4 linked regions of the Homo sapiens genome follow. The protein of the gene in region 3 purifies or fractionates together with the protein of the main gene of each other region. This does not show direct contact. Each region holds a gene or a part of one and is shown on either strand. Other genes may lie near its edges.

Evidence for each region.
Region 1: the proteins of SFSWAP (region 3) and KSR2 purify together in Homo sapiens (co-immunoprecipitation; one large-scale study listed by IntAct). This does not show direct contact.
Region 2: the proteins of SFSWAP (region 3) and CACNA2D3 purify together in Homo sapiens (affinity purification with mass spectrometry; one large-scale study listed by BioGRID and IntAct). This does not show direct contact.
Region 4: the proteins of SFSWAP (region 3) and GPATCH11 purify together in Homo sapiens (affinity purification with mass spectrometry; one large-scale study listed by BioGRID and IntAct). This does not show direct contact.

The regions. Positions count from the first base shown.
Region 1 is NC_000012.12:117,759,129-117,762,993, reverse strand, and holds part of KSR2 (kinase suppressor of Ras 2), read left to right. Parts: intron 1-1,469; coding exon 1,470-1,983; intron 1,984-3,865. UniProt on the Homo sapiens protein: Location-regulated scaffold connecting MEK to RAF. Has very low protein kinase activity and can phosphorylate MAP2K1 at several Ser and Thr residues with very low efficiency (in vitro).
Region 2 is NC_000003.12:54,129,049-54,132,913, reverse strand, and holds part of CACNA2D3 (voltage-dependent calcium channel subunit alpha-2/delta-3 precursor), read right to left. Parts: intron 1-3,865. UniProt on the Homo sapiens protein: The alpha-2/delta subunit of voltage-dependent calcium channels regulates calcium current density and activation/inactivation kinetics of the calcium channel.
Region 3 is NC_000012.12:131,713,981-131,717,917, forward strand, and holds part of SFSWAP (splicing factor, suppressor of white-apricot homolog), read left to right. Parts: exon of another isoform or gene 1-90; coding exon 91-260; intron 261-841; coding exon 842-973; intron 974-3,937.
Region 4 is NC_000002.12:37,091,015-37,094,879, forward strand, and holds part of GPATCH11 (G patch domain-containing protein 11), read left to right. Parts: intron 1-901; coding exon 902-1,022; intron 1,023-1,126; coding exon of another isoform or gene 1,127-1,150; coding exon 1,151-1,241; intron 1,242-3,067; coding exon 3,068-3,181; intron 3,182-3,637; exon of another isoform or gene 3,638-3,746; intron 3,747-3,865.

The sequences.
Region 1 (3,865 bases), about 14 Mb from region 3:
TTAATGAGTGCAGCACACCAACATGGCACATGTATGCATATGTAACTAACCTGCACATTGTGCACATGTACCCTAAAACTTAAAGTATAATAATAATAAAATAAAAAAAAGGTTTTTTTTTTTTTGAGACTGAGTTTCACTCTTGTTGCCCAGGCTGGAGTGCAATGGTGCGATCTCAGCTCACTGCAACCTCTGCCTCCTGGGTTCAAGCGATTCTTATTGCCTCAGCCTTCTGAGTAGCTGGGATTACAGGCACACGCCACCACACCTAGCTAATTTTTTTGTATTTTTAGTAGAGATGGAGTTTCACCATGTTGGCCAGGCTGGTCTCAAACTCGTGACCTCAAGTAATCTGCCCATCTCGGCCTCCCAATTGCTGGAACTACAGGTGTGAGCCTCCGTGCCCAGCTGCCCATATTCTTTTTATCACGTCATTCTGTTTATTTCCCTCCCAGCACCAATAACCATGTGAAATCCTTCTGTGAGCATGTTTTCTTGTCTATCATGGCTGCTTTGGCAGAATGTAAGTCCAGGGGACCAGGGTCTCATCTGTGTTGCTTTTGTGTCTTTTCCAAGCAAAGGGCATAGTTGGCACTCACAGGATGTTTACTGGACAAATGCATGAATAAGAACATGGCGACACAGATCTGGAGGAAGTATGCGGTGGCTGAGGAAGTGGTCAGGGAGGGACTAAGGATGAACTTGACTTCCTTGGAATTTGTGTATCTCACATGAGGGTTAGGTATTAAAATTTCCATGTAAGGGAAAAGTTATCCTTTAAAGTCCTTTAAATCACTTTGAAACTACCAGAACTGGGACCTTGGGAAGTTCAAAAAGTGAGAATTAACTTCTTTGCTTTTCTGAGCATTTGGGCTGTGGGGTCTTCCCAGCTATGGGGCAGTGGAAGGCAAGGCTGTTGAATGGAGAATAGGGTAACAGGGTCAACAAGGGGATTTTATTGTCTTTTTGGAGGAGCCAAGTAGAGATGGTTGGCTTTATGTAAATGTACTTATGATGTAATGTGGGTATGATGTAACATGCATTTGATAGAATGTCTGTAAGAGGTAATGGGCATATGAAATAGCATGCATATGATGTAATGCACATATAATGTGACATGCATATGGTGTAATGTGCATATGATATGTGCATATAACATGCATACAACATAACAGATATATAGTGTAACATGCATATGATATGATGTGCATATGATATAACATGCATACGATGTAACAGGTATATAGTGTAACATGCATATGATGTAATGGGCACATGGTATAATGTGCATAAGATATAATTTGCATATGAGATAACATGCATACGATGTAACAGGTATATAGTGTAACATGCACATGATGTAATGGGCACGTGGTGTAATGTGTGTATGATGTAATGGTGTGTATGGTGTAACTCACCTGGCTTTCTCATGGCTTACCCATTGTCTCTGCTCTTCTGTTCCAACTCAGGAGGCAACCTTTCCAAACAAGACTGGACCATCCAGTGGCCCACGACAGAGACGGGGAAGGAGAACAATCCCGTGTGCCCCCCGGAGCCCACCCCGTGGATCCGCACCCATCTCTCCCAGAGCCCCAGGGTCCCGTCCAAGTGCGTCCAGCACTATTGTCACACCAGCCCCACTCCCGGGGCCCCTGTGTACACCCACGTGGACAGGCTTACCGTGGACGCCTACCCGGGCTTGTGCCCGCCCCCGCCACTGGAGTCGGGCCACCGTTCCCTGCCCCCATCGCCCCGGCAGCGGCACGCGGTCCGCACCCCGCCGCGCACCCCCAACATCGTCACCACCGTGACCCCGCCGGGCACGCCGCCCATGAGGAAGAAGAACAAGCTGAAGCCCCCGGGGACCCCACCGCCCTCCTCCCGAAAACTGATACACTTGATCCCGGGATTCACCGCGCTGCATCGGAGCAAATCCCACGAGTTCCAGCTGGGGCACCGCGTGGACGAGGCCCACACGCCCAAGTGAGTGCGATCGGTGGGTGCCCTGGGGCGGTCGAAACCCGGCCTGCGAGGGGCTGCCCCTTGGTCCCAGGAACTGCCCAGGTCAAGGAAACCGGGAACAGACTTGCGTTCCAGACTCTGGTTGAATGAAAAATGGCTTTTCACAGAGGGTTCTGAGCAAATGAATAGAACAGAATTTCCCAGAATTGGCCGTTTAAAAAATACGATTAATATCCTATGGCCTAGGGGCTAAATCTGATACCCGGCCTGATTTTGTAAATAAAAGGTATTGGAACACGCCCATGATCATTCCTTTATGTGTTGCCTATGGCTGCTTTTGTGTGACAATGGCAGAGTGAGAATAGCCCACAAAGCTGAAAGTATTTACCATCTGGCTTTTTACTGAAAACGTTTGCCAACCCCTGCAGAGTCTAGCCTAGTGCCGCTCCTAGAAATAGGATATGAGGCATATATTAACCTTCAACTTTCTAGTAGTCACATTAAAAAGAATGAAAAGGAACAAGTGATATTAATGATCATAATACATCATTCAACCCAATATATCAAAATTATAATATCTTAACAAAGAATCAATGTAAAATATCATTACAGAGATATTTTGCATTTTTTAAAATACAAAGTCTTTGAAATTGAATGTGTATTTTATATCCACGGCTCATCTCAGTTGAAGGTGGTAGGAAGCAGGACACGTTGGGGAAATTGACAGAGGACCCCTTTGGGGGAGAGAGCAGGTGTGTGATGTAGGGTGAGACTCGAGGATTAGGCAGGTTGCTGTGCTATTCACAGTAGCCAAAAAGTAGAAACAACCTGTGTCCATCAGTAGACAAATGAGTAAACACAGTGTGGTCTATCTATACAATGCAATATTATTCAGGCTTAAAAAGGAAGAAACTTCTTTTTTTTTGAGACGGAGTCTAGCTCTGTTGCCCAGGCTGGAGCAGTGGTGGGATGTCAGCTCACTGCAACCTCTGCCTCCCAGGTTCAAGTGATTCTCCTGCCTCAGCCTCCCAAGTAGCTGGGACTACAGGCCTGTGCCACCACGCCTGGCTAATTTTTTGTAGTTTTTGTAGAGATAGGGTTTCACCATGTTGACCAGACTGGTCTTGAACTTCTGACCTCAAATGATCTGCCCGCCTTGGCCTCCCAAAGTGCTGGGATTACAGGCATGAGCCATCATGCCCGACCTGGGAGGAACTTCTGATATATGCTACAACATGAGTGAACCTTGAAGACAGCATGCTAAGAGTAAAATATGCCAGACACATAATGACAAATACTGTATAATTCCACCAATATGAGATACCTAGAGTAGACAATTTATAGAGGCAGAAAGTAGAACGGTGGATGCCAGGGCTGAGGGGAGGGAGAATGGGGAGTTGTTATTTATTGGATATAGACTTTGCATTTGGGATGATGAAAACATTCTGGAGATGGATGGTGGTGATGGTTGTACAACAATGCAAATGTAATTAGTACCATTGAACTGTACACTTCAAAATGGTTAAGATGGTAAATTTTATATTATGTATATTTTATCACCATTTTAAAAAGGCAGGATTCTGTAAGTGAAGGGTTGGCACACTTTTTCTGTACAGGGGCAGATAGTAAATACTTTAGGCTTTGCAGACCATTCAGTCTCTGTTGCAGTTACTCAACTCTATCATGTAGCACAAAACCAGCACAGACAATAGGTAAACAAATGGGCATGGCAGTGTTCCAATAAAACTTTATTTATAAAAACAGGTACCTGGCCCAATTTGGCCCATGAACTGTGATTTACCAAGCCCTGTCTGAAGCCGTAGTGTAGAGAGTGATCTCTTTTCTGAAGCATTGGGAATGCCCTACAGTGATTGACGTGGAACATGTGATTTTACAACAGTCA
Region 2 (3,865 bases), on a different chromosome or scaffold from region 3:
TCTCAACTCACCCTAGAAGTTAGTACCATTGTGCCCATTTGAGAGGTGCGAACACTGAGGCTCAGCAACTGACTTGTCAGGGTCATATGACCAGTCAGCAGTAGCATCTCGATTCAAACCCAGATTGTCGTCACTCAGATTCAGACTCTCAACTCTACACAGTTCTGCCTTCCCAAGACCAGCCACCTCTCTTAAAAGTAGATTTTTAAAAGTCAATCCTCTGATTTCTTTCTAAGTATACATATTTTTTTCCTATCATTCATAAAGCATTTGTTTCAAGCAAAAAAACTGAAAACCTCGCTGTTCAAGTAGAAAATCCAGCTATGGCTCTATAATTCTGAAATTCCCGTTCCAGGAAATGTATACTGTTGACTTTTTCAAAAGATTAGTGAGCTGTGAGCCCTCTCCTGAGAGGATTACATCTTACTTCAGGGCGACCAGGTGGCTCCTGATGTTCTGAAATACTCGAACTTGGCCACACACTCTGGAATTTTAAATTAGTTACCAGTATTTACTAACAAAGGAAAACAACCCATGTATATAAAACACATACACCCGCACACAAACACCCTTTATTGGTTGCCAGATAATGATTTGTCTGAAGTGTGTTGTCTGAGTTGGTGTGCGAATTTCGTATTATAAAAGCAAATGACAATAGCATTCCAACAGGGACCTAGGCCAAAGTCAAGAGGAAAGAATATCCAAACGTAGCATTAGCATTCCAGAAGTCAAATGACTATTATTATGTCAGTGGGGCAAAAGCCTATGCCCATTGAGCTGTTTGTACATGACGCAGTCATATTGCACTAACAGACATTTCACTAATAATGAAAACCAGTAGGAGGCTGAGCGTAAAGCTGGATGTTATGACTCGCGACTGTAGATTACCTGAATCCAGTAAATTTACTGTCTCCCACATCTATTGTTCTTTTTACAATATTGTTCCACCTCTGCCTCAAACAATACAATGGAAAAGGCGTTATGGATGGCACATGTACAAAGAGTCAAACACCTGCCCTATATTTCCAACTTTCACCTTGCTTCGCAAATTATAGCACAATGTTACAGCAACAGCAAATTTTAGTCTTACAGCTGCCCACTTCTGCTGTGCAAAGGACAAGATTAGGAGGATTTTGGAAAGAAAGCAAAAAAAAAAATCCACCTCCCTAGGGACATAATAAATGCATTTGTCATTGTGCCCCTGCCACACTAAATGTGCATAACATACACTGCCTTAATTTTATGAACTAATTATGGGATCAAAGTGACAAAAATTCCAAGTCTCTCTTGTTCATGAATAATGAAGTGGGACAGTATAAGTGAGAGGATGGCCTGAGAACCAAGGCTTCCCAGGTGCCACATATCGTCCTAAACAACTGAAATGCTGCCCAAGGGGGCATCGGGATTAGAGGTTATCTGCAGCTGGCTTCTGAACAAGCTCCCACAGCAAGGGAAATGGCTGGGTATGCTGGGATCTCCTGTGGCATAAGGACCTCACTCTGGGCTGTGGGGCAGATGTGGCAACCCCAATTCCTTGGGTGATGGGCTTCTCTGGGCATCTCCCCCCATGCTCAGGGAGAAGGGAGCTGATCTCTAGGGGAAGGGTGCATATCTTGACAGAGGCCGCCGCCACTGCAGCCTTCCTCCTGCTCTGAAGTGCTCTCATCAGGGGTCAGCTGGGGATCATCTGCCTACATGCCAATGCCTGGCACTCACCCATTCATGCACTTGCTCATTCACCAAGTACACATGTATGTATGCAGCCAGGCCCCACAGAAGCTCAATGAAGATTACCTGAAGAGCTTGTATTTGTATATTGCAACTAGGAATGACAACAACAACTCACTGGCAGGAGCCAATGTGCCAGGCACAGTGCTAAGTGCTTTGCATATTTTATTTCATTTAACCTTCATCACAGCCTATAAGATAGAAGGTACTGGTCTCCTTTCTCATTTAAGGGTATAGGTTCAGAAATGTTAAACTACAAGGCAACGCTGAAGAGGAAATGTCAGATCTGGGACTCAAATCCAAGCCCATCTGACTCCAAGGCTATGCCCTCTCAGCTGTTAACCCAGGCTTTAATTGTTTCTGAATTAATATCCCAGATGTTTCTCATTTAATCCTCCCAAACACCTGTGAGATCGAAAATTCAGGTATTATGCACATTCTTTTCAAATAGGAACTAAGGTCAGAAAGGATCACGCAAAGACAAGAAAATATAGCACTGTGGCCAGATGTGTAGACCCTGCTCAGTCACCTTGGGGAGGCTGCTTCAGTTCTGCCAGCCTCAGCTTCGCAATCTGTAAAATGGGGTGAATGGTAGTCCCTACCTCATTAGGTTGCTGGGAGAATTTAATGGGATGTCATAAGTAAAGGGCTTATCACAGTACCTGGAATGCAGAAACTACAGCATTGAGCGTTACCTGTTTTTACTATTAGATTAAGCAATTTGCCCAGGGCCACGGTGGAAATGCACACAGAAAAGATAAAAAGAGAGATGCCACTGCTTAAGGCCAATGACCCTTCCTTTAACAACACAGCATCTCCAAAGATGTGAATCTTTGAAAATGCTCCAAGCTCTTGACCTGTTACTCATAAAATAAGAAAATGATTTCATTGGAGATGGAACAAAGGTGGGCAAAGGAAGCCTCCTAGACTGAATGGAGCTGAGAGGGTAAGCTATCCAGCAGGAAAGAGAGAAAGCCAAAACGAGGACAGCCTGTCCCACAGGAGGCTTAGCCAGGGCCCCGCAGTTGGTCTGAGGCTCTGCTGCCACATCCTGGAATTCTTAATAATTTTTTAACAAGGGATTCTGCATTTTGCACTGAGGACCACAAATTACATAGCCAGTTCTGATCTCAGCAAGTCCTCAGATTCAACTGCCTACAAAATTCCAGACGCTGAACAAATCCATGCCTGTTGGACTGGCGTGACTCAGTTCTGTCCTACTGCCCTGGTTCATTCTCTCAAGTCAGCCTCTCTAACATCCAAGAGGACAAGAACAGTCTTCCCCATCAGCAAGCATTATCTGGCACGTTCTGTGATGAGCAGCATCCATTTTTATTGGCACAGGCACGCACACATACACACACTTAATAAGTATTACGGTAATGGCATGTGCAGGCCCCAAATATCAACTGGCAGTTGTTTCACCTAAAATGGAAAACTCGAGGTCTGTTTTGTGAACCCACAGCATTTATAGCCTTACCCACCTTGCCTGTCCAGATCATTTACATGCATAACAGTCCTTTTAACCTTGGGAGGGTACTGTTTTCCATTAACAGGTGCCAAGATAAATACTCTGAAGTGCACAAAGTGAAGGAACAGCCATCCATTTCTTGTGAAAAGATAATGCTTTCCTTTCCAATATGGCCTTGAAATGTGCGCCAATAGTTTGGTTTCTGAGTTGTTTATTTTCATAATGTTGATTTGGGGTAACTGGGAAGCTATGCAACATATAAATTTAATACATGTTATAAATTTAGTGCCTTAAACAGCCTTGGAATGAGCACCCAATGAGTGTTGTTCAAAGCAAATGGAAGTTGAAATGTTTACCATTTATTAGAAATGAACTGGACTATTTTCAAGTATGTATTTGTAAAAAATAATTCCCTTCTGAAAAGTAGACGTGCTGGCTATGCACACAGAAATCCCCTAAAACACATCAGCTATACAAATACCTAATCTGCCAAGGGTGAGCTGTAAGTACAGGCCAAAGTACTGGGCTGTCGAAGGGGCTTAGAGTCTGGTTTTACATTATAGAACAACCACTTCAGACAGAGTCTGTTGGTCACTAAATATTTAGGAAAATCACAAAAAATCAAGCATCCTCCTCTTCCTCATATCATTTTCTTCCTGTAAAGGA
Region 3 (3,937 bases):
TGTATATATATATACATATATAAAACATCACACACGCACACCAGTCTAGACGTTAATTTCCTTTTATTGACCAGCTTGTTCACATTACAGATATGATGGACGTGGTCACCTGCATGACCTTTCTGAGTACGATGCTGAGTATTCCACGTGGAACAGAGATTATCAGCTGTCTGAAGAGGAGGCGCGAATAGAGGCCCTGTGTGATGAAGAGAGGTATTTAGCCTTGCATACGGACTTGCTTGAGGAGGAGGCAAGGCAAGGTACTGCTCAAGACAAACTTACTTCAGCAACAAACTTTTTAAAATTTTTAAGTATTTAAAAATTTACTCCCATTCATTTTTTTATACTCACTCTTTCTGATATTATCTTGACAGTACCCAGTGGATTGGAAAAACAGGAGTCTTTGCGTTCTGAGAGGACCTCAGGATAGTTTATATATAGAGCCACAAAGAATTTTCCCAGCTTTTGAGGGCAGACTGGGATTTGAAAAAAACAAAAACCAAACTCTTTAACTGTTCTTCTTTAACAGTATCGTATAAATAAAATTGATGTTCTTGTCTTTGCCGTAACAGTCTTTAATACAGTTCTTAATCCCAAAATTTTCTCAGCAGGAAGAAATTTTCCACAAAAGACGTGTATTCAGCTGTCTGTGGGTAAACATGTACTGACAAAAGTACATAATGATAGATATAAAGTGTGAATTTTTAAAACTATTTTACCTCAAAAGTAGGTTGAAAAAAGTATGTTGTATGCTTTACTGATAGCTACAACTTTAGAAATATATAAAGTTTTTCTCAGTAATTTTCTATTTTTGTTGATAAAATTCTCATTTTTATTCAAGAGGAAGAATACAAGCGATTGAGTGAAGCACTAGCAGAGGATGGGAGCTACAATGCCGTGGGGTTCACTTACGGTAGCGACTATTACGACCCGTCAGAGCCGACGGAGGAGGAGGAGCCTTCCAAACAGAGAGGTGAGTGGGGAGCTGCCTGGACTGCTGGTGTAGGGCTACACGTGTACGCACAGGCTGCATGCACCGTGGTCCAGTCTGCAGAACACATCTCTGGCACTCATGATAGCACCACTATGACCACAGGAGAAAACGGGAGTGATATTCCTTCTTTTGGTAAAACGAAGTTAAAAACTAGAATGATTAATGGAGGTGGAAAGTGAATGCGTTGGATTATTTATTTCTCATTGATTCGGGTAACAGAATTACTCATTCAGGATTATTTGTTTCTAGATTGGTAACATGTTCATTAATATCCTCAGGGATTCATTCTTGAGGCAGTGAAAGAATAGGTGTTAACTGGGATAAGTTAACATCACCGCCCTCTCACTGACCTGCTTCCCCATATCCCTCCACAACTGAGACAGTGACACATGCCCAGTGGAAGGACACAGTGAGGGAGTTTCTACTCCCCAGAAAACAGCACAGCTTCCTGGTAGCCTTGATGCCACCTAGGGCATATACTTACCACAGTATTTTAAATTAAAGATTTGGAATTTATGCTTTTCTGGATTAACATGGGAAACTTTGAATATAAAAAATAGTGCTGCTGAAAAACCTGGGCTCGTGTAGTATAGACACAAATATCCTCAATCACTTCACTAAGCGTCGAGAGCTCCACTACCACAGCGCTGCATCATGGTCAGTCGTTAATTAGCAGTAATGCTAACATGAACCTGACACCTTAAAGACGGGTCAGTATATTCAGGATATTCTGTTTAAAAAGAAGAAGAACATTAACTTAGAAACATTCAAATGTTTACATTACATCAAATGGAGATTTAATTGTAGAGCTAATTTAATCTGTTATTCTGAACTTCATCGGTTTCTCCTTAAGTAACACTTTTTATCTTTTTAAATTTTTTTATTAAAATACACAATAATTTAAAAAAAGAGATGGGGTCTCACTGTGTTGCCCAAGCTAGTCTCAAACTCCTGAGCTCAAGTGATCCTACTGCCTTGGCCTCCCAAAGCACTGGGATTACAGGCATGAGCCACCACATCCAGCCAAGTGACACATCTTTTAACAAGTATGAAGCAATTATAGCACTTTAGTAGTAAAGCAAAATGATGTTTGCCCTTCCATCCTGTGACTGCACTATGGTTCTACCCATCGGCACTCTCCAAGGGCTGCGATCCTAACGGAATGATAGGACGTGGGGCAAACGCACACACCGGCTTTCCTTTTGCCCTGTCTTTAGTCCTGCTCCTTACTTTGTGGGCACAAGAATTACTGTTGCACAGCTCTATTTTATGAGCTTTTAGAGAAACTTTCAAGTGTAATTGTAATTATACTGAGTTAAAGGCCAGTTAAGGTATTTAAGACTTTTTGCATTGACTTTCAAACCTACCCATCCCTCAGAAGTTACGATGCACTAGAAATGTTCTATCAGGTCTAAAACGTAAACACCCATTTATTTATCCAGAATAAGCTCTCCTTCCTCGGGTTCTGGATAGTTCTGATTTTGTTGTCTTATCTCTAAGCCACACACATGAGTTCAGCTTTCTATCTGTGGTGTTTTTATCAGAAGGAAGGAATAGATACTATAGCCACTTCACAAATAAAGAGTTGAAATACAGTCAGCTTATTGGGTCCACATCTGTGGATTCAACCAACCACAGATCTAAAGTATTGGAAAGAAAATAACAAAGTTTTATTGGAACACAGCAATGCTCATTTGTTTACATATTGTCTGTTGCCACTTTCGCACTTCAGCAACAGAGTTGAAGAAATGAAACACCATATGGCCCACAAAACCAGAAATATTTATTAATACTGTCTGGCATTTTATAGAGTTTGTCAGCCCCTATTCTAGATGATGGACCATTGTCTCGGCGTAATTATTGGGCTAAATGATGTTCAGTTTGTTATAATTATTGAATCTTGAGAACTTCAGCATGACTTAGCTTATCATCTGAGTATTAGTTTGCTTTCCCCTTAAGATAAAGTTCTCTTTAGTATTTTACAATGTTACTTCTTTTCTTTCTGTAATCGTGTTCTCAGAACATTGCCTTATATACTGATTAATTTCGTTAATGGAAATTGGGCCCACATAAAACTTAGAGCTTGACATTTCGTGTTTAACTTGCATTAATATAAGTGAAACACCTAACACACACACACACATACGTGCATATTGTAATAGAATCCAGTACCACTAACAGCCCCATTGAGCGTCACATTCTGTTAAAATAAAATTTTTTTTCCTGAGCCATCAATATGTCTACGTATGTCTTGATTTTCAAAATTACTGTATTGTATTGTTTGTTAGTATTTTAAAGCCTTGTGATACTAGCCAAAAGCATTTTGATGGTGCCTCCATCTCTGATCTTTACTATTTTCAGTCAAGTTTTTATCCTTTAGATGTTCATAATTTTTCATCATTATTCTATATCCATTTTTTTCCCTCTTTTTTAGGGGAATAATGGGGCGGGGACAGGCCCTCACTGCTATATATCCATTTTTTAAACAAAAGGTTATTTGAATTTATTTAAATCTGAGTTTGTAGTGCAATGGTTGGTTTTTATTTTGTGCTACTAAAGCTGTTTTTTTGTAAATAAAGGTATATATAAGAATAGACCAAATCTGTTTAACCCATCAATCCCAAAAAGCTATTTCAATTAAAATGCCTTGATTTTTATGAATAACTTAACATTAAGGAGAAGCTATTTGCCTAGACAATGTTTTAATCATTTTTTTCATTTTAGGAAAATATAGTAAAAGTTGTATTTTTAAATTTACTTTGTTTTACTTTTTTGAGACAGAGTCTCGCTCTGTCACCCAGGCTGGAATGCAGTGGTGCGGTGTCAGCTCACTGCAACCTCCACCTCCCGGGTTCAAGCAATTCTTGTGCTTTAGCCTCCCAAATAGCTGGGATTACAGGCGCCCGCCACCACAACTGGCTAATTTTTCTATTTTTAATGGAG
Region 4 (3,865 bases), on a different chromosome or scaffold from region 3:
GCAGAAGGATTGCTTAAAGCCAAGAGTTGGCCGGGCGTGGTGGCTCACACCTGTAATCCCAGCACTTTGGGTGGCCGAGGCAGGCAGATCACCTGAGGTTGGGAGTTCAAGACCAGCCTGACCAACATGGAGAAACCCCATCTCTACTAAAAATACAGAATTAGCCGGGCATGGTGGTGCATGCCTGTAATCCCAGCTACTTGGGAGGCTGAGGCAGGAGAATCGCTTGAACCCAGGAGGCAGAGATTGCAGTGAGCTAAGATTGCGCCATTGCACTCCAGCCTGGGCAACAAGAGTGAAATTCCATCTCAAGGAAAAAAAAAAAAAAGCAGCCAGGAATTTGAGACCAGCCTGGGCAACATAGCAAGACCTCATCTCTGCAAAAAATTTAAAAAATTAACCGGGTGTAGTGGCACGCACCTGTAGTCCTTGCTATTCAGGAGGCTGAGGCGGGACGATTCCTGGAGCCCACAAGTTCGAGGTTACAGTGAGCCATGATTGTGCCACTACATACCAGCCTGTCCCTATAAAAATAAAATAAAATAAAAGTGTTCTGAGACAGATTTATCTACCAAATGTTTTGCTTAATACTTGGATGAATTCAAGAGAAAAAGATATATTTTATTCATATTTAAATAAAACTATAACAGCTAATACTGTTTTTCTGATTTGAAAAATTGTTTATAATATTACTATAAGATGAGATTAACAATCTTTGTAAAAATCAGATTATGTTTTGGGCTTAAAAAAAACCCTAGTGTTTTCTACTATTAGTGTACTCAAATGATTTGTGAGTGATAGTACTCAAATGAGAATTGCATTTAATTTGTACATAGTTAAATCGTCTTGTTTTGAAGCACAAAGTCAGGATGTTTCTCATCAGAATTTTCTGTTTGAATAGGGAAAAGTGGCATTGGTCATGAGGCATCATTAAAACGGAAAGCAGAGGAAAAATTGGAAAGCTACAGAAAAAAGATTCACATGAAAAACCAAGCTGAAGAAAAAGCTGCAGAACAGTTTCGGTAAAACTATTTTTGAGCTGGTTTTGGTTCTATTTCCTCTTTATTGTGGTATGTTCTCTGGTACTTGGGCATATAAAATGGTTAAAGATAACGTAGACCTTTAGTTTACAATTTTTTCTTTCAATTAGAATGCGACTTAAAAATAAGCAAGATGAAATGAAGCTAGAAGGAGATCTCAGAAGAAGCCAGCGAGCCTGTCAACAACTGGATGTCCAGAAAGTAAGCCTTTTACCAGCTTTCAGTTTAGTAAAGTGTTTTGGCACCCCCTGTGATTTCCCGTTTATTTATTATATATATATATATTTTATATATGTATTATATATATTTATATATGTATTATATGTTTATATATGTATTACATATATTTATATGTATCATATATATTTATATATTTTTTACATATGTCTTATATATTATATATATTTTATGTATTTATATATATAATATATATATTATATATATATATAAAACTAAGAACTCCAAGCCCGGTTTATCTACTCATTAAAGCTTTCATGTAATGTGCACTTCTGATCTGTGACAATTGATATAAAAATGGCTTATTATTTACTATAGTAACCTGAGTTGTCTGGGTTACTATAAAACCCAGGGTTTTATAGTAACTATAGTTTTATAGTTTTATACTAACTATAGTAAAACAAAAAGGGTTAAATAAAATTTTACATTTAATTGTTCTCTGCTTATTTGAATATCAGTTATGACTATTATGTGCAGAAATTCTGTTCTTTATAATATTTGATTAACAAGAATAGCCTATTTTCAGTTCCTATTCAGTATCTAATATATGTCTAACTATTAAAATCAGAGTGGGCCAGGCATGATGGCTCAATCCTGTAATCCTAGCACTTTGGGAGGCAAAGGCAGGATGATTATTTCAGCCCAGGAGTTCGAGACCAGCCTGGATAACATTTCAAGACTCCATCTCTACAAAACATCTTAAAATTAGCTGCATGTGGTGGCACACACCTGTAGTCCTATCTACTCAGGAGGCTGAAGTGGGAGAATCACTTGAGCCCAGAAGGTTGAGGTTGCATTGAGCTATGTTCATGCCACTGCACTCCAGCCTGGGTGACAGAGTGAGACCCTGTCTCAAAAATAAAATCAAGGTGGAATGCTATCTAGTTCAAATTTGAATAGTTTTTAAAAAATTCTGTCTCTGGCTGGGCATGGTGGCTCATGTCTGTAATCTCAGCACTTTGAGAGGACGAGGCTGCAGGATTGCTTGAGTCCAGGAGTTTGTGACCAGCCTGGACAACATAGCAAGTCCCCAGCTCTACAAAAAAAATAAATAAGTAAATAAATTCTGTCTTTGCTTTTATCTTAGTGGTTCAAGTACTCTGAAAATAAAATGACTTCATTTGAAGTCTCAAAAAGCTTTGTAAAATTTCCCTTATATATAGATTACTGGAAGCAATCTCTCACTTTCCTGTTCTTACATATTACTTTACTTTGAATGTATTTCATGGCACTTATGATTTTGTAGCATATATGTATTATTTTGTACCCATAGCCTATCTTTCCTGCTAGACTGTCAGAAGGAACTTAAAGACAACTGCACAATTCTAAAGAATTGGACTTTGCATCCCCATAGTTCATGGTACAATGTTTTCACTTTTTTTTTGAGATGGAGTCTCACTCTGTCACCAGGCTAGAGTACAGTGGCGTGATTTTGGCTCACTGCAACCTCCACCTCCTGGGTTCAAGCAATTCTCCTGCCTCGGCCTCCTGAGTAGCTGGGACGACAGGCATGCACTACCACGCCCAGCTAATTTTTGTATTTTTAGTAGAGATGGGGTTTCACCATGTTGGTCAGGATGATCTTGATCTCTTGACCTCGTGATCCACCCACCTCTCCCTCCCAAAGTGCTGGGATTGCAGGCGTGAGCCACCGTGCCCGGCCAGTGTTTTTACTCTTAAAGCCACACTCAGTGAATACGTATTGAAAGAATGAATTCATGTTGACATGAACATATTTGTCATGCTCTTATGTTTAGTATGTTTAATTGAGACTACTTCTGCATTTTCAGAATATTCAGGTTCCCAGGGAAGCATGGTACTGGTTGAGGCTTGAAGAGGAGACTGAAGAAGATGAAGAAGAAAAAGAACAGGATGAAGATGAATATAAGAGTGAAGATTTAAGCGTATGCTTTGCACCATTTCCTTCATAGGGTGTCTCAGCCTTGGCAACATTAGCACTTTGAGTTGTGGTAATCCGTTGTTGTGGAGAGCTGTCCTGTGCATTGCAAGATGTTTAGCAGCATCTCTGGCCCCTGCCCACCAGATACCAGTTGCACTTTTGCTTATGACAACCAAAACCCTCTCCAGACATTGCTAAATGTCCCCGAGGGGAAAAATAACCCCTGGTTGAGAGGTACTGCATTGCAGGATTACTTTACTAACCCCAAATCAAAACTTACATATAATTTTTCCCTTTAGCTTCCATTTGTCCTCTCATCTCAGCTTCAGTTTGGATGATGAATTAGCAACAAATGTAAATTATTTTAATTTATACCTTATTTCCTGCAAAACTTCTACAAGTCATTCTAATGTGTACTTTTTTCTCCTACTTATAAACAACAAAAAAACACAATCAAAAGAAAATGGAGGCCGGGCATGGTGGCTCACACCTGTAATCCAAACACTTTGGGAGACCAAAACTGGTGGATCACTTGAGGTCAGGAGTTTAAGACCAGCCTGGCCAACATGGTAGTGTATTTTAGTCTCTACTAAAAATACAAAAATTAGCCAGGTGTGGGGCACCCAATAATCCTAGCTACTCAGGAGGCTGAGGTAGGAGGATCACGTGAGCCCGGGAGGCAGAGGTT